Linked DNA regions of Homo sapiens: regions 1, 2, 3 and 5 are each linked to region 4. Evidence: fine-mapped expression QTL. A gene starts in region 4. Each other region holds a variant in brackets. All regions are shown on one strand. Distances are between the middles of the regions. Region 1 overlaps BASP1 (brain abundant membrane attached signal protein 1). Region 2 overlaps BASP1 (brain abundant membrane attached signal protein 1). Region 3 has its middle 2.9 kb from the start of LINC02217. Region 4 holds the start of BASP1 (brain abundant membrane attached signal protein 1). Region 5 overlaps LINC02217 (long intergenic non-protein coding RNA 2217).

Region 1 (5,106 bases), 22 kb after region 4:
AGCTAGTTTCCTGATTGATAAAATGTTCACTGTTTGTTCATATCCTCTCCTGTGTAGTTAGATGGCTACTGAATATATCCTGAGAGCAGGTCCTAAGAGTTTATTTTTCATGTTATTGTTGGAAATAAAAACCCAGAAATATTTTAATAATAGGAATTAAAGATATGAAGACCCTGATATCTGAAAGCTGAGTGGTTCAAATATGGTGAGCAATGCACTCTTAACTAGACCCATATCTTAAGGGAAAAAAATGTTTTTAGTACTTTTCTTGGTATCTTCTAATCTTCAGAAAAAAATTCTTAATAGGCAGTCGATGTAAATAAAACAAAATTCTGTATATTTAAAAAGCTGCTTGCGCTACTGTGTCATTCCTCTGGAATTTTCAAAAGCTGAGATTTTTCTGTATACTTTGAAAGCTAATGAAATCTACCAGCCCACCGGGTAGTAAACAACCAAGAATTCTTGATGGAGGTATTGTAAAGAAAGGTGATAAGGTGGCTGGGCATGGTGGCTCACGCCTGTAATTGCAGCACTTTGGGAGGTCGAGGTGGGCGGATCACGAGGTTAGGAGATCCAGACCATCCTGGCTAACACGTGAAAACCTGTCTCTACTAAAAATACAAAAAATTAGCTGGGCGTGGTGGTGGGCGCCTGTAGTCCCAGCTACTTGGGAGGCTGAGGCAGGAGAATGGCGTGAACCCGGGAGGCGGAGCTTGCAGTGAGCCGAGATCGCACCACTGCACTCCAGCCTGGGCGACACAGCGAGACTCCGTCTCAAAACAAAACAAAACAAAAAAAAGAAAGAAAGGTGATAAGGCTATCTAATGAAGGACCCAAAGAACTCTCACTGAGCTCACCCAGAATGCTTTTCTGGATTAAAGCACAGACTGAGAACCTGTTCTTAACATTAGTGACTTCGGTATGGCTCATTTTGAAGAAAGAAAATTGCCTAAATCTATAGTTGAGCTTGCACACATTACAGGTCTCTGGAAATAAGATGCTTAAACAGGTTCTATAATCTGGTTCTTGCTAGGTGAGTGTCCCCTGACATTGCTTTTTTTTTTTTTTTTCCGTGATGGAGTCTCGCTCTGCCACTCAGGCTGTAGTGCAGTGGCTCACTGTAACCTCCACCTCTTGGGTTCAAGTGAATCTCCTGCCTCCACCTCCCGAGTAGCTGGGACTACAGGCATGCACCACCATGCCTGGCTAATTTTTGAATTTTTAGTAGAGACAGTGTTTCACCATGTTGGCCAGGCTTGTCTTGAATTCCTCACCTCAAGTGATCCACCCACGTCGGCCTCCCAAAGTGCTGGGATTACAGGCATGAGCCACTGTGTCCGGCCCCCTGACATTGCTTTCTAAAGTAAGATTACCTGTAGTTCTCAGTGTTCGCCAAGCATGTATGAAACACAACGTATGTTAAGAGGCTGTTTAATTACATAAATGCTTATTTGGGGGATTCTTGTTCTCAGTGGCCTTCTCTCTTTTGGATGGATATACACAGTTTGATTGGCACTCCTATTGACACTTTATTTGGTTTGTGACTTGTTTGTCTCGGTGCCTTTCTATTAATATATTTTTTCTATTTAAACTACCCTCTTTTTTTCAGTACAGCACTGGACATTTTCTTTGAAATCTTCCAGATTCATTTGGTTGTCTTCCTCATCTCAGCTGTCTTATGCAGGAAAAGTGGTCACTGTTCAGTCAATTCATTCTACGTAGCTGGCTATCTGAGTTTTTTTTTTATCGAAACCAAAATAAAACTTAAAAGAAACAGAAGAAGCTGAGTCTCCCTCCCCTCCCTTTCAACTAACACCTACTGATGTTTATCTTGGAAATAATTTGACGTCTATTTGATGAAACCTGTAGTTAAGTGTTAATGGAGACTAACGTCAAGCTTCAGAACAGTGAGGAGAAACCTTTAGTATTGTGTGTCTAGCATTTGATGCAAGTGCTCTGTGGAAACCATGGAAGCTGGGATAAAAATGCTCGCCTGATCCCCAGATAGTCTCATCTGAATGTACTGAGGCATCACCGCATTCATTCCAAATCTGAACCTGACCTACTTTTCCCCTTCATCTCCTGCCATCTCTTCCCTAGTTTGTCATCTTCTTTTCCAGCACCACGAATGGTTCATGCTTTCTGATAAATATCTGATGTATGGCATCAATTATATGACTATTTAAACATGACTCATAGTGAACTGTATTTAAATATTGATATGACTCCATGCGTTTTCAAAGAATGTGTGGAATGTTCTTTTTGAGTGTCAGTTATTAATCATCTGTTTTCCGTTCAACTTTGGTTATCTTCAGTAAATTTTAATATCTTTCCCTTCAAGAGGACTTCCCAGCTGTCTGATCAACGGGTAGGAAAGGACAGTTGGTTCAGTGCTTGCTCATGTTAGCCCTGTAAGAAGTCAGCTCAGTTTAGTTCATCCAATAGCTGGGGAATAAAACCACACAATTCCCTTCCTTACTTGATATCAATCAACACTTGACTAAATCTTACATCCTGTCTTCAGCTGTTTTTTTTTTCTTTTTTGAGATGGAGTCTCGCTCTGTCACCCAGGCTGGAGTGCAGTGGCATGATCTCAGCTCACTGCAACCTCTGCCTCCCGGGTTCAAGTGATTCTCCTGCCTCAGCCTCCTGAGTAGCTGGGACTACAGGTGCCCGCCACCATATCTGGCTAATTTTTTGTATTTTCAGTAGAGACGGGGTTTCACCATGTTAGCCAGGATGGTCTCGATCTCCTGACCTTGTGATCCGCCCGCCTCAGCCTCCCAAAGTGCGGGGATTACAGGTGTGAGCCACTGCACCCGGCCCAGCTCTTTCGTAAAGAAAGCCTTGGCAAATGTGGAAATTCTCCCTATTCACTA[C/T]GGTAAATAATTCTTGAGGTTACTAAACTCAGTATCTAAATAAAACAGATCAGTGTGTTAGTACATGGAACAGAAGGCCATATTTTTGGTTATAACCGTTGACCCCACACTCACCCTGGGGTCTTGGTGTCAATGTCAGGATGTGTTTAAATACCCTAGGCTGTCAATCTTGTAATACAACTTTGGTTATCTTTGTTCTAGAGCCTTGCAAAGTAAAGCTGATCCTAGTTAGGACCCAGTTAGGAATTTGGATATATGTGTTGTATTTGCATGTGATACTGCCCTTCATTTGAAAACACAGGCTTAAATTAGTGAAGTAGAACTCTTTTAGTCCAGATTACCCCCAAAATCTGTGAATTTGTACTAATTCAAAATCCTCTTTGCTGGTAACCGTTGTAATGAGGTCTTTGGAAATTTTATCCTGGTAGCATGGAGGTGTTGCTTCTTTTCATTTGTCTAGTTTTGTAGTCAGAACTGTTTATAGAGATGTAATTTTAAAGTGACCCTATGCTATGGTTTGAATATATGTGTTCCACCAAAATTCCTACGTTGGAACCTAATGCCCAGTGTGATGGTATTAAGTAAGAGCTGGGGCCTTTTGGGAAATGTCGAGGTCATGATTATTCCACCTTCACTAATGGGATTAGTGCTCTTATAGAACATGTTGGGAAAAAAATAAAAATAAAGATAAATAAATAAATAAATAAATAAATAAATAAATAACAGGTTGGAGCCCAGGAGTTTGAAGCTGGGGTGAGCCGTGATCATGCCACTGCACTCCATCCTGGGCAACAGAGTGAGGCTCTGGCCGGGCATGGTGGCTCACGCCTGTAATCCCAGCACTTTGGTAGGCCGATGTAGGCAGATCACCTGAGGTCAGAAGTTTGAAACCAGCCTGGCCAACATGGTGAAATCCTGTCTCTACTGAAAAATACAAAAATTAGCTGGGCGTGGTGGCGGGCACCTGTGATTGCAGCTCCTCAGGAGGCTGAGGCAGGAGAATCACTTGAATCTGGGAGGCAGAGGTTGAAGTGAGCTGAGATTGCGCCATTGCACTTCAGCCTGGGTGACAGAGTGAGACTCCTCTCAATAAAATAAAGTAAAATAAAATAATAAAATAAAAAACAGAGTGAGGTTCTGACTCTTTAAAAAAAGAGAAATAATGTGCCCACTTCATCAGCACATATACTAAAATTGGAACCATATAGAGATGAACATGGCTGCTATGCAAGAATGACAGTGCAAATTTGTGAAGCATTCCATATATTTTGGAAAATAAAAAAGTTGAAGGGAGTGCCCTAGTCCCCTTTTGTCTTTGATCTTGGACTTCCCAACCTACAGAACTGTGAGAAGTAAGTATTGATTCTTTATAAATTACCCAATCTAAGGTATTTTGTTAGGGTACCTACTAAACAAAAAGATAAAACTCTTGTGATTTTGATCTTAAGTTGGAAACATAAAACCATCGTTACAGAGAAGGCAAAACTAGGCAAAGATTTATTTTTGCAATGGCATTTAAAAATATTTAATAGTTTCTTTTAATTATAACATTACAAAATAACACCTTGTAGTCTGGTGAGCACAGGCTTGCCTAGTGCTTAGCATGTGCCAGGCAGGCCACATTCTAAGCTTTACACAGATTGACATTTTCCTTTTTTTTTTTTTTTTCTTGAGGCCGAGTTTTGCTCTGTTGCCCAGGCTGGAGTGCAGTGATGTGATCTCGCCTCACTGCAACTCCCACCTCTCAGATTCAAGCGATTCTTGTGCCTCAGCCTCCTGAGTAGCTGGGATTATAGACATGTACCACCAGTCCCGGCTAATTTTTGTGTTTTTAGTAGAGATGGGGTTTCGCCATGTTGGCCAGGATGGTCTTGAACTCCAGGCCTCAAGTGATCTGCCTGCCTCAGCTTCCCAAAGTGTTGTGATTACAGGAGTGAACCACTGCGCCTGGCCCAAAGATTGACATTTTAAAATACAGCAGCTAGGTGGGGTGGATTCTATTATTATCCCATTGTACAAATGAAGAAACTGTGGCACAGAGAAATTAATAATAGGTTACGTAGCCAGTGTAACCCAGAACATCTTAGTTCATGTTGCATGTCTCTCATTTGCTGGAAGCATATCAGTCAACAAGAAAATTATTGTTTTGCTTCCAGTTTGAGTAATGTTCCTGTGACTTCTTTAAGTGCTGTATATTTGCTGCATTTGCTGGGAGTGAACGAGGCCC
Region 2 (5,103 bases), 39 kb after region 4:
CATATCTTTCAGAACTATTGTCTTAATCATGAAGACCCTCAATTACCAAATTGAGAAGTTTATGTTGCTTTGACCACCATCTGTGTGCATCCCGATACCTGGGGTTACAGACTGGAATCTGTGATCAAGGGAGAGCGTGGATACTTGCTTTATTAACAAATTTACGTGTGTTTTACTCACCAGTGATGAGAAGACCACCGACACATTCAGGAGGCTTTATGGAACAGAGAAATCCTTCAACATTAATTACTGTATCTAGTGTTTTTTTTTGTTTTATGCAAAAGATGTACGTAGCTATTTTGGAAAAGCATTATAAGTAGAACTTGCATGTTGATAGCTTTAGGATGTGTTCAGATTACAAATCTCCATTTGTACTATACTTGAGTTTTTGGTAATTTGAACTAGACTAGATCTTTAAGGGAAAAAATATATATATATTTTTTCTCAGAGAACAAACCAGGAAAACTTTAGCATCTTGAAGGTAAATTAGTGTTGATTATGACAAGTGAGAATAATTAATTTGCAAATAGTCATAAGCAGATTATCTTTTTAGCAGTTAGTTCTCATTTATTTGTAATTGAAAAAACAAATATCTGCTAACATAATTGTAATTCATCTTTTGTGTTCATTTTTAAAGTGCCTGTTCCTTTCCAGACAAGCTGCACTCATGCATGGCAGTGTTACAAGGGTGGGCTTGTAGACTGAGTTTGGGAAGTGCTATGAATCTACTAGGATCACCTATCACAATCAAGATTCCATAATTCCAAGTAAAGGAAGATGCTTTTGCCTGACTTAGATGATGGTTCGGATTCTAGTGTAGTTTTTTTTGGAAATGCAGTTCTGTCACTTTCACAGCTATGTTACCAATGAAATAAGTCTGTGTGAATAAGTAAAGGGAGGTAAGTTGATAAAAGCATTCAGTTTGCAACGGATCTGCAGTGCATCATGGTGCTCAATACAGTTTTTGAATAATCACATTTATTTATCAGATTTTAATTGGAGAAGATTTGCAGATCCCACCTTTGAATCATTACAAAGTATGAATCCTGTCATCTAGAATACTGAAATTTAGTATGTACCATGCTTAGGACTGATCCGAAGACATTTTAGGTTTGAATAAGAAAAAAGAGGCAAAGAGGCCCAATATAAAAACAGAGAGAATAAATCTTAAAGCACCATCTATGTTGGATATCCTTATTGCAAGAGATCCCACATTGGACAGACGATTTCAGTTGACACCAAAGGAAGTAAGAATTTTCTGAGACTGACGGGTATCTTGGTAAATGTTCCCTCTTTGCAGGTGGTCGTAGATAATTTCAATTCACCCTCTGCTTTCTTCGAACTGACGAAGGTGTAGCTTTGATATTTTCCCCTCTTCATGTTACATGATCATTTATTCTAACTGGCAACATTTTATTTATTTATTTATTTGGACCCATTGTTCCAAACATGTAAAAGATTTGGACCTGCAAATCTTTCTATGTTAGTATTTATTGTATTAGTGTTTGAGATACCTGGAATTTTGGAGATGAAGTGACTCAATCCATTTATTTTCTAGAAGAAATCTTAGAGATGTGAGGGACAGGTGTAGATTCACAAGAGCTAGGACATGCTGTTCTAACAAAAATCCTCCTTCCCTTTGGTTCAATTTTTAATCTATTTTAGGTCCTTCCATTTCACATTAATGACATAGTAATCTACCCACTTAAAACTATAATAAGTTCACTAGGTTTTTTTTTCCCATTAAAACAGACTCATGAGTCATAGTTTACTATTACTTTCCAAGCTTTTATTCTGTATTTTCCTTAACATCTGAGAATCATGTGGAATCTGTGGTACCTGTGCTAATCTGAAGCCACTATGTATTTTGAAACCTCTTGCCCCACGTTGGATGCCTGGTGTCGATCAGGAAGTGTTGCAACGTGTAACACATCACTCACCACTCTTGACGGTGTTACAGGGTAGGAAGTTGTAGAGATGCAAGGCTGACTGTGGACGTAAATAATAGAACATTCAGAATCATCACTGAGGCAGAGTTTTGCCAGCTTGTATAAATCAGGTAAATTTGCTCATGTTAA[ATGCAT/A]CTCTTTCACTTCCACCTTCTGTTTCAAGTTGACAATGTTTGCATTTGACTCCTATTAAGACACTATGCCTTTCCTCAAACATATCTGTTGCAATTTCATGATTTCTTAAGACTAATGCTGTCACCAGTATATTTCATTTAGCAACGTCCTGCACACCAGAGTAGGTTTCTAGATAGGGAACTCAAGATACTCACATGAAGGAGGCATGGGCTGAGTGTGTAGGGTAGAAACTTGGTCTTTGAATCAGAAGGAATTTGCACCCAGCTGAGGGAATCTTGAGGTGTCCTCTTGTTGACATCTGAGGTTTCACATGCTCTTCATTTGTCTGGTATCTGCATGACTTGCCTGCACCCCACTTTTTTGCAGCTTCCACCTTGGCCCATATCTCAGAGCACAAACAATTTGAAGGACATTCCAAGGTGAATCCAGAAAACTACATTAGGAAAGATTTAGGAGCCTGCCTAGTTCTTTTCTACTCTAACTCTTGTGGAATAGATTGATTTTTCTGTTGTAGTTTATTTGTTAAAATTGTTTAAGGCCACACTGTCAGAATTTAGCTCACAGGCTAGCATCGGCTCTGCTACCTTTGACCCTTTTAAGAGTCATAGTTTTCCTATGATGTAGAATGGAAAGATCTATGGGCAGTCAGGGTCGACCTTTGGGTGCCCTGCTTCTAGTGCAGTGCCTGGATGTTTGTGTCATTTCTCAAATAAATAAGTGAATTTGAGTGCTCAATAGAATCTAGTTGTGTGTATACATTATTACTGCACGTTTGTGCAAAAACTAAAAATTATAGACATAAAGGATACAATTCTAGTCATTTATATTACAAATGAAATAACCAACCCTGGGAGGTTAACAGTGGCTTGTTTAATGTCAGCAGCTAGTTTAGTGGCTGTAACGAGACTGAATCCCAAGTTGAACAGAAATCGTTTAAAAATTCAAGTTTTAAAAATCAAGTACAATGAATGATATTGGCTGCTTTTCTAAGGAGAGTGATTCTCTAAGCCTATAGGAAAAAAATACTGGTGGCTGACTTGTGGCCTTAATTGCATGCTAAGGTTGAGGAAGGATCTCCAGTAATTCTTTGCTTTACTTTGTGTTTGAATATAGGATTTTATAGCTGTGGGTGGAAAAAAAAATATTTCTAGGGAAAAGGTTTCCTGATAATTTAACTGAACCCCAAACAAGTGAACTGGGTGAAACAGAATATGGCACATGGTCCTTTATCACAACCTTTCTACCTAACCTAAAGCCAGTAAGATGGAAATAGTTTGGAAAAGACACTATCTGCTGAGGTTGCTTTAAATAGAGTCTCTCCTGGGACTTAGAACACATTTTGAGGCTCATTCTCCCTTTTGATAGTTTCTTGGAGACATTTTTCTGTATATACTGGATGCAGGCATTTGTATTCCTGGATGGCATTCATCTTTTACCAGTGTGAGGAGGCTGTTTTTATCATTGTGAGATTTATTAACATTTACTTGCTCTTAGAATCTACAGATTATATAACAGATATTGCAGGCTATAACCTAGAATTTAAATATTAAAAAGAGTGATTAAAAAACAAAACAAAAAGAGTGATTCTTTTTGTTATAATTGAATCAATTCCTATTGTTTACCTGTGTTGAATACAGTAATTGGTCCCACCGATCTTTTACTTAATCTTGAAATTCAGAGTTATTCTCTATTCTACATGAATGGAGCTGGGAAATGGTTTTAGGTAAATGAAGGTAAAATGTACTGAATACCTACTGTGTGTAGTGAGCTGAACTATATCCTTTACTGCAAATATTCCATTTAATGCTAACAACCACCTCCCCTTCTATTTTCTTCTGTAGGCAAAGGTTGAGTTCACTGAGGCTGACTCCCTGCCCCAGGTCACATAGCTGAACGTGGTCTCTCATCCCCTTGCCTATGTGCTTTTTTTCACAGAGTATATTGGATTGAGATCCAAAACTTATTGGCAAGCCATCAAAGTTCCGCTTGAACTAAAAGAGGAAAACCTGTTTTCTGAAATGTGAACTTTAATTACATAAAATGGAGGCTTCTGAAAACAGTATTGTCTCACAGGGCAGGCTATAAACCTTGAACAATGGAAGCTTCATGTTGTGTAAGAAAGGAGCTTACAGAGCCAAACAGCACCGTTCCTGTGTTTCCCCTGCCAGTGACAGGAGCATCTGGGGTAGCAAGGGGACTGCCCAGGGCCTGGTGTTATCATCAGGGGTTCTTGAAATTGCTCACACTGCTCTTGCTTTTCCATACAGGCTGCTTATATCTTGCCTCCTCTGGCTAAACTGTGGTACTAACAAGACGGCAGTTGGCTGCTGGGGAAATTCTGATAGGGAGAGTAGGTCTGGGTCATTCTAATTTATTTGTGGCTCTGGTAGCAAAGAGAACTCAAAGGCAGTATATCTCTATAGCTGATGAGATTTCACTGGGGCCGACACCACCTGTTCTGTGCACACTCACTTCTCGGTTAGACCTGGCTAGGTTTTCTGCTGTGCTTGTTTTTAGCTTTGTAACCAGCAGTAATCACATTGGTCTTTGGGATTTTCATGTTTCAGGTTTTACAGATGATGCAAAAGCATTAGTTTTCAAAGTCACTGCAAATGCTATGTATATGTATTTCTCAACATGCAGCCCCTGCACTACTTGTTTTGGTGTTACCTGGTCAACTTGGTAGAAAATAGATTCTTGGGACTCATGCTGAGCCCACTAATTAATTATCTTGGGAAAGAGATAACACTCCCCCCACCTATATTTTTAACAAGCTTCTCAGATGATTCCTGTTTACATAAATTTCACTCCCAATATTAGACACGTTATACAGAAACATTGGCAAATAAGAGGTTGAAGTGACTTTGTTCTGAGTCACATCATGAGTAAGGGGCAGTTGGTATTGAATTCTAGTTTGTGTTTCATCCCCAAGTCTGGGGATGAAATGCATCGTCTCTGGAATTCCATGGCTGGGGACAAATACCCTCTGTTATGTTTTTAAATGTCACAGCCCTCTGGG
Region 3 (5,106 bases), 180 kb after region 4:
CTCATTCAGTTTTTTGCCTGCAGATTTAGTCTCAACGAAATGAGCCACACTTTTTTTCTTACAAAGCAGCATTACCTTCTGGGGAGAATGAAATGTGGTTTTTCTTTGACAGATAAGTGGGAAAACCATCTGTGCATTTCCCGTCTGAATCAAGCTTAAGCCCCTCCCCTAGTCATCCAGGGCTGCATTAACCATGGACTACCGGTGCCCCAGCAAGGGGAGGCTGTGGATGTGGATAACTCCACACAGCTGTGCCTGGAGGCTGACGGACTATGGCAGATATTTCTCCACTTTATTCAGGGACCAGAATATGTTCACTTTGCTTGGAGGAACTGATTAATTAAGTGATGGACTGGAGAACAAAGAGGTAGCGGTTGATTATATTCATTAGAGGAAATAGAAAATTAACTCCTTAATTAAGGTATTATATTGTCATACTTCAATATCACATATTCTGCACTTCCTTAAAAGAGTTCAGTGTATTTCTTTTGCATGCCTGGTAATAACCTCAGGAAGCAGGACTGACTGAATATCATGATGTCTATTTAGCATTTAAAGGAACTGAAAAGTGGAAATGTACACGTCTCTTTCCCCCCTACTCTAAAGTTTAATTCAAATGCAATTGCAACCAACATTTCACTAGGAAGGTGGCTTGTACATTTGAATAGACAAATGGATATTTGGCACTTCTGTCCATTTTTCAACAAACTGTTGTCAAGTACAATTTTGGTAGCTTGAGGGTTGCAGAAGGTGCAACAGGTGGCTGCACCTCAGCTCTTCCTTCTCTAAAGGAAGAAATGCAAGACTGGGAAGATTGTTCTCTAACTGTGGCAGGTAAACACGGTCTGCTCCCAAAGTGAGTTGAGACCACTGGGGAATGGACTCTGTGCCCATGATTATAGAATTGAGATTACCAGTTGGGAAATTAGAGGCAACTTTCAGGTTTGTATAGCATATAGTTTGCTGAATCCAATTCCTATCTATCCTATATATTAGGATTTTCATTTTTAGAGCAAAAATTTGAGTTCGTCCCTCAAAATGCCTATTTCCTCTCTTTTTGGAGTTAATGTATTTTTAAGGAAGTGCTGCCAGCTCCAATTTCTACAACTGTCAATTCCTTATCTGCTATTTGGAAATCACTGCAGAGCCTGGATCATCGGAGGCAGTTTTGGGGCCATCTCCCATTCCCAGAATGGCATCAAACCTTAAATTGGAAGGTATCGAAGGAGGCGAAGAAACTATTTCCAGCAGTGAAGTGAACTAGGATTAAACAACTCCCCAACAAAACAAAAACTGAAAAAATGAGAACTGGGACCTAAATACCTCAAGGTGGTGAAATTGTCACTTATCAGAGCAGAACCAAACAAGACAGCCTTCAGCTAGAGCCAGCCTGAGAGCTGAAAGACCAGAAGTGAAGGGAAGGAAGCTTGGAGAAGGGGAGCAGAAACAGAATAAAATAAGTCAAAATAAAATAAAAGCAGCCTAGCCTAGTGGAAAGGTACAAGTGTGGTGGCTGATTGGCTGCAGATGGAGACTGTAATTTTCTTAGGCTATCAGTGACTAGCAGGCAGTGACAGGGAAGAGGGGGTGTCAGGTCTGAGGAGAAGAAAACCGGAACTATTTTGCTGTGTAGAAAGTCACCATGCTACACGTCATGGCCCACGAAGGGCTGATTATATTACAGAAATATTATATTATATAATATTATATACAATATATAATATATAATATATAAATATTATATAATATATAAATATTATATAAAGAAATATTATATAAAGAAATATTATATAAAGAAATAGTGGCTCAGAATTATGATCTTCAGCTATCAAGAAAACTTTGAATCATGTTTGTGTATTTTACTAAGGAAGGAAAATAAGTTTATAATATATGACGTGTTTCATTTGAAAGTGAGAGTTTGAGTTAAACGGTTAAATTCAGCGATCTGGAAAAGTGTTACGTAGAGTCACGTATCCCTTGAAATATTGGGAAATTGATGTGGAAGTTATGCTGCGCCTCACCCTTGAGATGAAAAGATTGAAAATTAGATTTCACAGAACAAAAATCATTGCTGGGGGCAGTTTGTGAGACAACAATGTTGAAGAATAAAAGGAGTAAAAATAAAGATGAACACACACACACACAGATACACATACACACAATCACACGCTGACAGAGACATACGCCAACTCACATATACACTCACACTCATACACACAAACATACACTCTCATATTCACACATACACTCACTCACTCACACACGATCAATGCCCTCCGGATTCACTTTATTCTTTTCCCTCCCTTGCCTTTTTCTAGAAAGAGCTGTATTTGCTGTTTCAGGATTGCTAATGTGAAATTTACCCAGGTGGAAGGACCAGGAGGAGAGAAGTGTTTGCTGAATGAAAATTTGTAGCAGAATGTGGGCTATTCTCTCCCTTCTGTGTCGTCAAGTGACTTCTTTCTCCCCCACTCCCCATTTCAAGTTGGCCTTAGGCACACATTTCTAGGGCTTTCTGTGCTCATGTATTATTGACAGGTAATCCCTTTCTCCATTCCCAC[G/A]GGGCGCCGAATGAGTCCTGCGGTGAGCTAGCACTTTAGCAAGGGGAAGTTGGGAGTAAGAGTCTGTTATTTCATCATCCCAGCAAGCAGAACAACTAACTGCCTCCCTACCTGTTTGTGTATTAACTAAATGGACACCAACAAAATGTCATTAGGACGGGAAGTCCGGGATCTTGCAGTTTCAAGCCATTGCATCTCTAGCCCCTTCAGAAGAGAGATTGCTGGGCCCCAGGAGATGGTTTTGAAGGAGGAGGGTCGGTTGAAAAAGATCAAGGCCACTGCAGTGGGGCTGGGTGGAGATCACCTCAGTGATCCCTGGAATGCATTATTTGTCTTTTCACTTTCAAAATACAGGGTTCTAAGGCACATGTCTGTGAGGAAAGAAAAATAGAGCGTTCTGAGCTACATGAGGTATGAGAAATTTATCAGGCCCAGAGAGACAGAAGTATGGAACTCCAATCATTCCCTCCCCACCCTGCACCCCTGCCTGGGGGTAATGTTTTAAAGGCATTTTGTTCCAGATTAACTGCCTAACACATTATCTTCTTGTTGCTGGAATTTGCAATACAAAGAACACCTTATGTTATTTTAACATAATTTATTGGTAAACAACTCAGGAACTGCTTTCTTCTTTTTCCTTTAAAAATCCACTTGAATACTCTCCAGGGCGGCAATCCTCAAGCTTGGCCCGAATCAACTCTCTACTTATGTTAATTTTGGCTCAGCTTCTTCCTTTTAGTTGACAGCTGAGATGCCCAGAACATTGAAGGGACAGGTAAACATTTCGACAGTGAACAGATAAGAATTAGAATGTCTTGAGTTTAGAGAGAGCTTTGTGTTTGCTCTCTGACATTTGTTTACTGTGTGTGAGGCTTTTACAAGTGAATCCCAGGGTGGGATAATAATAGCCGTGGGGCACCAGCTGCCGGCTAGGCTTTGGGTGCCGAAGAATTTGTGGACATTTTACAGGCTAATAGATTTTTTTTTTTTTAAACTGCAGGAGTTCTGTGGGAATTCCTCTGCAAATTTTAAAATAAGTTGTAGGAGTAGGAAAGTGAGACTTTCTCTTTCTCTCTCTCTCTATTTTTCCAAAGAGCGAAAATGAGCCAAATTTAGAGCTAGTTTTGAAAGCATTTTCTCACTTTGCCTTAGGAACGAAGAGTGAGGAAAATCAAGTGTCATCAGCACCAGCTCTTTGAATGCGGGTGAGAGGAAACACAAAGCCCCGGCTTATTTCAATTGAGCAAGACAATGCAAGAGATTTAGAGATTTTAGGTCGTAAAGGACCCGTGAGCTCCTTTGTTCCAAAGTTTGTCCTATTGCCATTGAGGCATCTGTTTTCCAGTAACTATAACCCCTGTTTCCTGAATCAGGGCTGCCCGCTCGGGTGGGTCACAGAGAGAAAGCATCGTGGGCCAAAATGTGGGTGTTGGGAGCCATATGGTGGGTTAAGAGGAAGATGAGGAGGAAGAGGTTAAATTGGGCTCAGGGATCAGAGCAGGCAGAGGGGTTTCCAGGAAAGTTAAGACGCAGGGCAGAAATACCATTCAAAGAGTCAACATTGTAACCCTGGAGGTGGGGACAGATTCTTCCAAGGTTATCTCAGGACTAATCTCTCATTCCACTTTCAGACTTACAACTAGGAAAAATGTGTTCTTTTCCCTTTGAGCTAACGTGGGCTATCAGCTTAGCATACCTGCCCTCGTTTCATCCTTTCTTGCAGGTCCACTCCAGGACCTGCCAGGATTGCTGTGAAAGACTCAAAATAGGACCCTCTGAGCCAGTTTTCCAATTCTCTTTCCCAGAATTCTGGGGTGTGCCTGGAGGGAGAGAGGGAAGCTGAATCTTCTCCATCCTGCCTTTCAGGTTTCCTGTCTCAGGATTCCTGGTAACATTTCCTTTGGGAAAAAGAAGGGAGTTCTGTCAATTAACAAAACATTTGAAAAATCACTCATCCACTCTCTTCTCATTTTACAAATGAGGAAACTGAGATCAAAATAGGTTAATAGACTGACCCAGGATTCTGCCATTAATGGCACAGATTGAGTTACAGCTCAATTTTTCAACCACCAGGGCACTGGTGATGATTTTAAAGAACTAAGATAAGGAGAAGAAGACTAAGTGTTAAATGCACTAGCTGCATTTCTATTTTAAACTACTGTAATATAGTAATTCTAAAAGGCCTCTTTTGCTGGTTTGCTTCTTTTATGAAAGCAGAATCAAACTCAGATTTCTTGCTTTAAATAATTCAGTTGATGACTGAAATTTAACCAAGTGGTGAGTTTCCTCACATTTTTCAGAACAGCCCTTAAGAAACAAAAATAATTATGTTTGTTGACTTAAAAAATTTATAGGAATACTTACTTTTTCCCACTTTCTCCCTTTTTCCCAACTTGAAAGCTTAACCTCATTTGATCATCTTCCATTCAACTTTCAAACACTGTCCATACTGTTGTGTAGTAACCATGCAGTGTTCTTCTTCAGTAGGGGATAAAATGCAACCACTATCTAGGGGTGAATAAAAATATCTAACGGTATTAGCAAA
Region 4 (5,092 bases):
TTATTCATTTATTCCCTAAGCATCAGTTTAAAAAAATGTTTTAAAGAGCATACACATTAAAAAGTATGATATTAGATGAACAACTAAAAATTAGACTAAAAACATCGCCAAATTGGATTTTATATAGTAATATTGTTACATTGAGAGGTAACATTTTGGCAACCATTTGCTGCAAACCTACAAATTCTGTAAAAGCTTCTAAAGATTAATAGCACTATCAGTCAGTTGCATCATTATCTCATTGAAAATGAATTCTCACCCTCCTTTAAAAAAATTTAAAAAAATGTTTTAAGAGAACAACTAAATCTGATGGAAGACAAAATTAAGGAGACCTGCAGTTCTCCTTGTTGGTGTAAGCTTTTGCCTCCGGTTTCTATGGTAACCCGTGATCTGTATTCCAATCACACCTTTGAAAGGTTTGTTTTCTCCATCATGAAAATTTAGCTGGAAGCACTGAAGGTACTGAACATTAATTTTTATGTTGTCTTTTTTTTTTGGAAAAATTGGAAAAAGAGAATAGAGAAGGAAGATAACACCCACAGGCTTAGACTGCAAATACAATGAGGAAATGTATTTGCTAATTTTTAGATGATTTACATGCCTGGAAGATCACAAGGATAAAAACCCTGAATGCTAAATGAACAAGTAGGCAGCTCCTCTAACAAACTCAGGAAATGTCTTGAGCAGAACATTGCAAATATTCATCTAATTCGATAGGGTAAAAACCTAGAGACTTGCTCATAGAGGTTGAAAGAAAATGTAGCTCAGTGGTTTTCAGCCTGGAGTGATTTTGCCTCCCAGGAGACATTTGGCGATATCTGGGGACATTTTTGGTTGTCACAACTGGTGCTGGTGCTGGTGGTGTGTGTGGAGGGTGGTACTGGCTGCTAGTAGAGGCCAGCAATGAATGCCAGACATCCTACAGTGCATAGGACAGCCTTCCACAACAAAGAAATATCTGGCCCCAAAAGGAGGTGGGAAAACCTGCATCCTCCATTTAGCTTTATAGATGGTGTACTGGTGTGAGGGAAATAAATATTCAAAAGAATAAAATGCTTTAGAAGCAACCTCATTTGTAATTTGCTTCCCTGGTATTTTACTACACTAACTTTTTATTTCACTTTAAATGGCAGAAAGAGAAACAGGAAAAAACAAACAGTTCCCGCTTTTTTCTTACCTTTGGTTTAAATTTGAACATTTCCAGCTGGCATGCATTAATCTAATTTGGTGCTGCCTCCTATGACCTGTAAATGTGTACAGTAGGGTCGTCAAGTGTTTCCACTGCAAAATCGCTAGTGCAGTTGAGTAAATATTGCCACTTTGCTTAATTCAAATATGTACGTTAAAGTTACGATAAGTTAATTTTCCTGTTAAGTGAAAATGCACTTACCTTTACCCAGTTGAATACAGATGTACTTGCCTTTGACGTCTGCCTCCCTAAGTATGGTTACAGTTTGTCACTCCGGTTCTGGAGGGCCACCCTGTCCCTGAATTCACGCCCAGGTCCTGAGGGCAGAACCATCCTGAGGACAACCTGCAGCTCCATCGATTTTTTCTTGGCTGGGACGCAGGCGAGCATGAAAGCGATCCAAACACAGCCAGAGGGCGCCAAAATGCCGCAAATAAAAGTTCCAAAGGCGTCAACTGGCTTTTGCGGGAAGGTAAAATTGGCTTTTGTGTAATCAAAGAGCTACCGTTGTCAACGATGTCACGTTACGTTATTTTTGTATGTCCCTCTTGCCAACAGGTAAGCAAAGTGAACGCATCTTCCTACCCCGGTGGCTATTCTGTGTCCCGGTGCTAAACCAAGTGTCCGCCCCCTTAGGGCACCCGGACAAGCCGCGGTTGGCCCTAGCTTTGACTCGAGCGCTCGCAAGCAGCAGCGTGCGGGCTGCCTCGGCCAACCCCGTCTTCTCAATATTGGTGGCCTCCATTAAAGCACAGACATCAAAAACATCGACGGCCCCTTTCCCCTCTTCTCTTCCCTCCTTCCTCTCCCAAGTTCCGAGAGCATCCTCCGAGGGGCGACGTCTCTCGCCCCACCAGCTGGACCTCGGCGACCGCGCCTCCCCCGAAGCTGCAGCCTTCGGGGCTGAGCCCCGCGGGTGCGGGTGCAGGTGCGGAGCCGCCCAAGGTGCGCAACTCGTTTGCAGCGGCGCAGCCCAGACGCGCCTGCAGCTGGGGCTCACCCCAACCTCGCTGCCAGCCGAGGTAGCGGAATCGTAGTCGACGTCGGGAGCGGGCTGGACTGGGGTCTGAGAAGGGTAGCTGGTGCCAGGGGGTGTCATTCATCACCTCGAGGCAGCTCCCTAAGTCTGAGCGAGAGCCCGAGCACTTCTTATCCAACGGTTCCAAATAAATGAGGGGGAGAGAGAGAGAGAGAGTGAGAGAGAGAGAGAGAGAGAGAGAGTGAGTGAGAGAGTGAGAGAGTGGGAGAAGTCCACGGACAGCCCAGGCGGCGCGGCGGGGGAAGGGGGACGCAGGAATGGAGGAGAGGAGAGGGGAGGCGGAGGGGGGATCTGAATAGAGGGCATTTAGGAAACGTTGGCGGGGCACAGAGTTGGGAGGTGGGGGGAAGGGAGGAACCAGGATGGCGGATAGGAGAGAAATGGGGGTGACTGTGCTGGAGGGGAGGGGAGGTGGGGGCCCAGAGCTGGGGGGAGTCAAGGGGAGGCGGGCGTGTCCAGGCTGGAGGGGAGAGGGGAGGGTCTGCGCCGGAGGAGGGGAGGGGAGCAGAGGGAGTGCAGGGGGTGGGGAGATGGAGCTGGAGGGGGTGGAGGGGAGACGGGCGGGGCGCCGGGCTGGAGGGAGGGGAGAGAGGCGGGCGGGGAGCGCGGGAGGAGGGAGGCTGGGCGGGCGGACGCGCGGGGGGAGGGCACTGGGCAGGAAGGGGAGGGGGAGCGAGCGCGAGAAATGCAGAGGCTGCAGCGGCGGCGGCGGCGGCAGTAGCGGCAGCGGCGACGACGGCGGCGGCAGCGCTCCAACTGGCTCCTCGCTCCGGGCTCCGCCGTCGAGCCGGGAGAGAGCCTCCGCCAGCGGCCAGGCACCAGCCAGACGACGCCAGCGACCCCGGCCTCTCGGCGGCACCGCGCTAACTCAGGGGCTGCATAGGCACCCAGAGCCGGTAAGGAGGCGCGCCCGGTGGCCCCGCGCCGCCGCGGACCCGGGGGCCTCCGTCCCCCACCGCGCCGCGCCCCGCCCCGCAGCCCCCGGGCTCTCCCTTCATGCAGCGGGCAGCAGGGATGTGGGCCCGGATTGGACGGCAAGGGCCTGGGGTCCCTCTGTGAGGGCTCCGTCGCACTTCGGGGATCCCGGGTGATGGGGGGCCCAGAAGTGGGAGGCTTCAGCCGCTCGCATGGTGGAGGGGTGAGGGGGGCGGCGAGGTTGGTAAACGGAGCTGGGGGGAGGGGGCTGTCGGGGAGAGGAGCTGCGGGTGACGGGAGGAATTGCCGAATGCGAAACCCCCTCAGTGCGTTGAGTCCCGGGGAGACGGTTCTGTGGGCTGAAGGGAGCGCTTCCGTCATCGGAGCCCTTACCAGCCTGGGAGAAAGCGCTCGGGGCGAGGGGCGCAGCAGCCAAAGATGGAGGGTGGGGGTGGGGTGGGGCGGGAGTCCGGGGAGAAAGAAGATGGGGAATCTGGCCCGATCAGAAGGAAGTGGGTGGCTTTTTGCTTTGGCAAACGGGTTTTCTCGACCCATGGGACTCCTGGATCTTGGTTCTGGGGCCAAGGAATACGAGGTTCACACGGCGACGTGCACTCAGAAGCACCTCCCGAGCAGATCGGAGCCCCAGCCTCGTCAGTGGCGGAATTGCCTTCCTACGAACCCGTGGGCTGCCTCGGAGCAGTTTGTTTTTTCGAGCCTTTGGTTCCAAGAATGCGCCAGGCGCCTCCGCCCTGGGTCCCGGCCCCGGCCCGGGCCCGGGGGGTGTGGGCTTGAACCTGACAGCGCGCGGCCCTAACTGGGCTCAGCCCCGCTGGGAGCGTAGGGTTGGGGTTGAGCAGCTTTTGCCCAAAGCGCTAAAGCTGAAACCCGGCGCCCGGTTCCTGCTCCCCCCGCCCCCGTCCCCCCTCCATTTCCAGAAAAATAAAAATTGCGGAATCCTGGATCCGATCGCACGCACAATGCGCGGCTGCAAACCGCATTCTTTTCATGAATATTCATCGAACGCTTGGCCAGGCTCCTTATCTGCGTCCCCAGAGACATTTCCGCCTTGAAACGAACTCGGTGGACAGCCCTTGCCCATGTAATTCTCACTCTGCTGAAATTAGCACAGCACACATGGGTGCATTTTTTAGGACCTTGTACAGGTTGACAACACCTCTGTCTCCCCCGCGGCCACTCGCACTGTGGGGCGGGCTAAAACCCAACACTAGCGTCGAAATGGCCTTCTGCTATAGGGTTGTGGACCGACCCCCCACCCCCACCTCCCGGGATTACAGCCCGGGCCAACAGACCCCCAGTATACTGCAGGCAAAATGAATGAATCGGGACTGTAATTACCTATTCCTTTGTCTTGGCCTCGCGCATGCGCCGGAGAGCAGGGTGTGGAGGGCCCGGCAGCCCCATCCCATCTCCATCATCCAGCCACCCACTCCCCTCCCGAGCCGAGGAACAAAGGCGTTTGCCCTAAATGTTGCGGGAAACCCTTGGACACCAATGACAGTTTTTCCCGCCTGTGTGTGTGTTTCTTCTTTTCCAGGCTGTCTCTCATCTTTTGCTTTCTTGCTGATTTCAATTGACCAAAATTAAGATTTGCCTTGATGAGGATGAAGGCAAATTGTGGATTAAATATTTTGTACCCGCACACTGTTATTTTCCTTTCTAGTACTGTTCATTGTTCTTTTTCCTGTAACATATCTTACTGCAGTGAGGGTGGCTTTCTTAATTTGCATCAATTAACCGTTTGACAGATCTTTTTTGGTCATTTGATTAAGGGAAGGTGGCCTCAAAACTGTCAGTGGGCGTTGCCTCCAGTGACACCACCTGGGGAAAATTAAGACATCTTGGCGTTTATTCGAACAAGATGGCCTACAAAAACCGGAGAGAAGAAAACGATTACCTTGTCGGGATCCTAACCCTTTCTGTTTTCT
Region 5 (5,106 bases), 220 kb after region 4:
TTATTAAAGTGGGAGAGAGAGGTTGAATCAGTCTTTGGCCGCATTATTAAAATAAAGTAGGAGCAGTGAAATGATCAAAACAGAACGATAACAAAGGAAAGCTCAGTCTCTCCACCACTCTCTATTCAGTTCTTTAAAGCTGATATTTTTGGGGAAGAAATGCCAATATTATTAGATTAGTTTTCAGTAGTCTTTAACTTTGTTTTATTTTAACTTTAATTTTGTTTTATTTTTCAGGGAGGAGACTGTCATTCACCAGCAAACCCCTGCCCCCTCACTTTTTCTTTTTTGTAATTGGAAGTTCAGGTTGAACTGCTCTGTAGTTATTCACCCACTTCTGCTGGTCAAAGGCCCATGAGGATTTAAATGACTAAATAGGCCATAAAATGCCAACCTTTTAGACGTCTAAAAAGTGTCTGCTGGATCAAACAGTCATCACGAACCACCCTTAGATTCCTCTGCCACTCACTCTGCTCCCTGTGTCTGGGACACCCTGAGTCCACAGTGACTCTTTGCCAAAGTATAAAGAAACCACCATGTACCTTTTCAAAAATGTCCACTTGTCCTTAAAGTCATGAATAAAGGAAGAGATGGCTTCCAGATATGCAACTGGACTTCTGACAGCCATCATCCTCTAAAATTTCCCTGTGTTTTGACTGAAGTTATCCACCCACTTCTGCTGGTTCCTGGCTCACATAAACATTGAGCAAGTAACTTTCCATTAGACCCAGAGGATAGACTAGGATAGAGTTCCGAGTGTCTGAAAATTCCTGGTCCCCAACAAAACTGTGTTCTGCTCAATAATTTATTTCGTAAGAAGTTATAATAAGTCTAGTCATTAAATCAAAAGAGAAAAACCTTAATGAAGTATAATATTGCTTGGTACTTGTTTTTGTCAGTTCCATTTCTTCATTAACTTTTTGATTGGGAAAATAAAGATAATTACACAAATCTATTCTCAAATTTAGCCATGGATGATTTGATTTCTCTTTCTGTCTCTTCTGTGCCTGTGCATACACACACACACACACACACACACACACACTCAGAGAACAGAGTTGTCTCTTTCTCTCTCTATATATATACAGAGCATATATATGTGTGTGTATATATATGTATATGTATGTGTATATATATGTATATATATATATAGAGAGAGAGAGAGAAAGATAGAGAGAAAGATGCTCCTCAACTTATGATGTGTTATGTTCTGATAAACCCATGGTAAGCTGAAAATATTCCAAGTCAAAAATGCATTGAATGCACCTAACCTTTCAAAAACCATAGCTTAGCCTAGTCCACTATAAATGTGCTTAGACACTTAACATGTAAATGTGGAATACTTACATCAGTTTACAGTTGGAGAAAATCATCTATCACAAAGTCTATTTCATCATAAAGTATTGAATATTTCATGTAGTTTATTGAATTCTGTACTGAACATGAAAAACAGAATGGTTGTATGGCTACTTGAAGTACAGGTTCTACTGAATGTGTTTCACTTTCACACCATTGTAAAGTTGAAACCATCATAAGTTAGGGACCATTTGTGTATATACCTATATGAGATATATGTTAGTAAGATATATATGTAAACAACATATATGTAAATGAGATATATAAAAACATATAAATAACACATAGATCTCCTTGTTGAATCCTACTGTGTACAAGACATAATTTTTTATGCTGGGATTCAGCAGTGAAGAAAAGGGAGGAAAGCTCTTGGCTTCACAGAGCTCACACTCTGGTGAGGGAGAAAACAAATATACAGAATATAAGAAGGTGAGGGCTGGGCATAGAGGCTCATGCCTGTAATTCCAACACTTTGGGAAGCTGAAGTGGAGGGATTACTTGAGGTCAGGAGTTCAAGGCCAGCCTGGCCAACATGGTGAAACCTCGTCTCTACTAAAAATACAAAAATTAGCCAGTTGTGGTGGTACATGCCTGTAATCTCAGCTGCTTGGGAGGCTGAGGCATGAGAATCGCTTGAAATCAGGAGGTGAAAGCTGCAGGGAGGTGAGATCGCTCCACTGCATTCCAGGCTGGGTGACAGAACGAGACTCCATCTCAAAGAAAAAAAAAAAAGAAGGGGGTAAGTACCATATGCAAAAGCAGAGCCAGGTGGGGGACAAGAGTGTTCAAGAGTTGTCATTTACCCATTTAGATGATATGGTCAGAGAGGCCTCCCTGAAAAGGTAATGTCTGAGCAGAGACTTATGGGAGAAGAGAGAACAGGGTGAGAAGATCTCTGGGGGAGAAGTAGAAAGTGCAAAGACACAGAGGTGGCGATGAGCCCCATCTGGTTGGGACAGAGTGAAAAAGGGGTTCAGCTGGAGGGGCCTGAGAGGTGAGGGTGGCAGAACGTGTGGAGGTGTAAGCTCAGCAGATGGTGGACACCCTGGAGGCCATTGTGAGGCTCTGGTTCTCCCTCTGTGTGATTTCAAGATCCATTGCATGGTTGCAGCTGAGAAGTGAACAAGCCTTATGACCTGGTTTCTCTTGAAGAGGATCTTTCCGGTAGGTGCCTTGAGAAAAACACAGGAGGGATTGGGAGGATGTAGAAATTCCTATTTGTAAGGGTTTGCGATCTGGGTATATGTCCACTGAGCCGTGAACTTACTGTCTCGAGTTCTGTATTCTAGTTGGGACTGTTCTGCTAACTGCTGGAGGGTATTGGCACAATCACTTAACGTTTTATTCAGAAGGGAAATAGAAGTGAACACTTAGTATTTAAGTTTGAGCCAGTTTCTTCTTAATCCCTATGATCTGTAGCCTGCTAGGATCCTCAAGTTTGTTTTTCTTTTTTTCCAACACCAGAGCATGTGTCTTTGCTTGCCCCACCTCTGTC[C/G]TCATAGTTTCTTTACTAACAGCTCTGACTTCCCTTCCCAACCTCTCTTAGTACATGCGGAAGATGAGAACAGTGGACAACGGCTTTGCTAAGCCCTGAATTGTTCCGAAGTTTGAAGTTGTAACCCATGAGCTACCTCTTTTACAAAAACAGTCAAAACTGGATGTTAGAAATATTTTGGAGGTTAAAGGAAGAGTGTCTTGAACCTCCCTACCACTGAACTGTTTAATATTCTAGAATTTATGTTACACAGTAAAAGATAGACAACTCTGTCTGCAGTTCTGGGACTGGGATATGCCTGTGCATACACGCATCTGCTCTGTTTTGGTTTCACTTCACTTTAGTTATTTGATTTGGTGTCTGCAAAACCCTGTGTGCACATTTTTATGATCCTTGGGACAATTTACTGCCAACCTTGCTTGAACTCTAAAATATGCCTCCAGTTTCGGAAAACCACAAATTATTTACCAAGGAGGCAAGGAAATGGAGGTCACTGGGCTCATTTCTTACATAATTTTCAACTTCCTTTCTGAGGCCTGACATCTCCCGGCAGTCACAGTGATGTCTTCCTTAGATGGATTCAATAATGGGGAAGAACAGATGAAAAGTGGTGAAAGTTGCTAACTGCTGTGTTCCTCTGCTTGCTTTTCATGCTGTGTGCCAGGAATCAAAGCTGGAGGAGCGGAAGGTAGATATAAAGTAACCCTGTTTCCTAGGTTATTGTGTTTATAAAGTGTTAAATAGGAAATGCGAAAAAAAAACCCCTCTGCTTTGTGGGAAACAAGGTCATTTAAGGTACGAAAACAACAGTATTAAGCTAAAACAATAGAATAAATAATCACTAAAATGAAAGTACAGAACAGGTATAGAAAGTCAATCTTTGAAACATCAGCTGTTGTCAGTTTCTTTCAAGATAATTCAAGGGTGACTAACATATAACTAGCAGATACATTCAACATACAAGAGAAAAAGAGTGAGGATAAAAGGGGGCAATAAAATAAATAGTGGAATAAGTGATGACCATAGATCAAATGGAAAGGACAAGGAAGGAGGAAAAGATAGCTCCTATGTGTCTAGCTTGGAAAGATAATGACTCAATTGAGTGAATAGGGGAGACACATTGAGGGTTTGAAAGCCAGGAACTCAGGAATTTTTGTTTATTTTTATTTTTATTTTTGAGACGGAGTGTAGTTCTGTTGCCAGGCTGGAGTTCAGTGGCCTGATCTCGGCTCACTGCAACATCCGCCTCCCGGGTACAAGCGATTCTCCTGCCTCAGCCTCCTGAGTAGCTGGGATTACAGGCATGCTCCCCCACATCCAGCTAATTTTTGTATTTTTAGTAGAGATGGGATTTCACCTTGTTGGCCAGGATGATCTCGATCTCCTGACCTCGTGATCCACCCACCTCAGCCTCCCAAAGTGCTGGGATTATAGGCTTGAGCCACTGCGCCGAGCTGGACCTCAGGAATTTTTAAAGACATGGCAACATTCTTGTTGTATGGGTTTACTTATGACAGATGGGTACATAGGTCTGTCCAAAGGGGCTGGGATACTTTGTTACGTTTGAGGAATTTTTTTCTGCTAAATTCTCTTTTCCCTTTCTTCCAAGGAGGCAGGGTAAGGAGAGGTACCAGGTGCTGGTGGATTGTTTACCTTGGAGATTTCCGCCTTACGGAGGAAATAGCTGGTAGAGTCAGCAGAGACCTCTTCTGGTGGGCCTCAGGGTTGTGAGTTGAGCACTTGGAGCAGGGAAATATTGGATGTTTTCATGACATCAGTAGGATTTAATTCAATCAATGAATAGGACCCAGAAATAAATTAGCTGAGACGGGTGGGGGAAGAGGGGCAGAATCCCAACTGTGCTTAGTTATAATTTGAGATGTAGAATAAAGAGTGCTCCAGGAAGCATGGCTCCAAGCAAATGATGAGTTTTTGAATCCCTTCATGTTTATGATTTCATTTTTTTTCCCTTCATGCTTATGATTTTAATTATCTCTGTTTCCCAAAGTGATTAGCGGAAACAGTTTAAGATGAAATGAATATATGTGCTGGAAGGGGAGGCAAAAGTAGGGTGACATCCCACTTCATAGTCAGGCTTGTGGGTGGGGAGGGGATGGTGCAAGTGAAGAGCGAGAGGGCTTGCTAGTGTCTGAGAGGAGGAAGAAGACGAGGAACACGAGCTCAGTTCCTGAAGAAAGAAATCGATGGGAATCCAGGCTGATTCCACTTGGATCTGCAACACTTCAGACAAATCC

Evidence for each region.
Region 1: its variant is fine-mapped to the expression of BASP1 in whole blood (INTERVAL, PIP above 0.99).
Region 2: its variant is fine-mapped to the expression of BASP1 in whole blood (TOPMed, PIP above 0.99).
Region 3: its variant is fine-mapped to the expression of BASP1 in whole blood (TOPMed, PIP above 0.99).
Region 5: its variant is fine-mapped to the expression of BASP1 in whole blood (TOPMed, PIP 0.99).

What each region holds. Positions count from the first base shown.
Region 1 is chr5:17,236,568-17,241,673 of GRCh38, forward strand. The region is part of intron 1 of BASP1 (brain abundant membrane attached signal protein 1); the gene reads left to right. It also overlaps the pseudogene RNU6-1003P. Among named protein-coding and RNA genes, the nearest start is that of BASP1, 21 kb to the left of the region's middle. The variant C/T (reference allele first, on the strand shown) is at 2,880.
Region 2 is chr5:17,253,668-17,258,770 of GRCh38, forward strand. The region is part of intron 1 of BASP1 (brain abundant membrane attached signal protein 1); the gene reads left to right. Among named protein-coding and RNA genes, the nearest start is that of BASP1, 39 kb to the left of the region's middle. The variant ATGCAT/A (reference allele first, on the strand shown) is at 2,079.
Region 3 is chr5:17,398,552-17,403,657 of GRCh38, forward strand. No RefSeq gene overlaps it. Among named protein-coding and RNA genes, the nearest start is that of LINC02217, 2.9 kb to the right of the region's middle. RefSeq lists enhancers at 2,235-2,880, 2,881-3,526. The variant G/A (reference allele first, on the strand shown) is at 2,562.
Region 4 is chr5:17,214,687-17,219,778 of GRCh38, forward strand. BASP1 (brain abundant membrane attached signal protein 1) reads left to right here and starts at 2,945. Exons shown (of 2, transcript NM_006317.5): 1 at 2,945-3,124. It overlaps BASP1-AS1 (BASP1 antisense RNA 1), which reads right to left and starts at 2,736. Exons shown (of 3, transcript NR_027253.1): 1 at 1,391-2,736. RefSeq lists silencers at 2,741-3,220, 3,711-4,030 and an enhancer at 4,065-4,845.
Region 5 is chr5:17,433,675-17,438,780 of GRCh38, forward strand. All of the region lies in intron 1 of LINC02217 (long intergenic non-protein coding RNA 2217), which reads left to right. Among named protein-coding and RNA genes, the nearest start is that of LINC02218, 7.8 kb to the right of the region's middle. The variant C/G (reference allele first, on the strand shown) is at 2,852.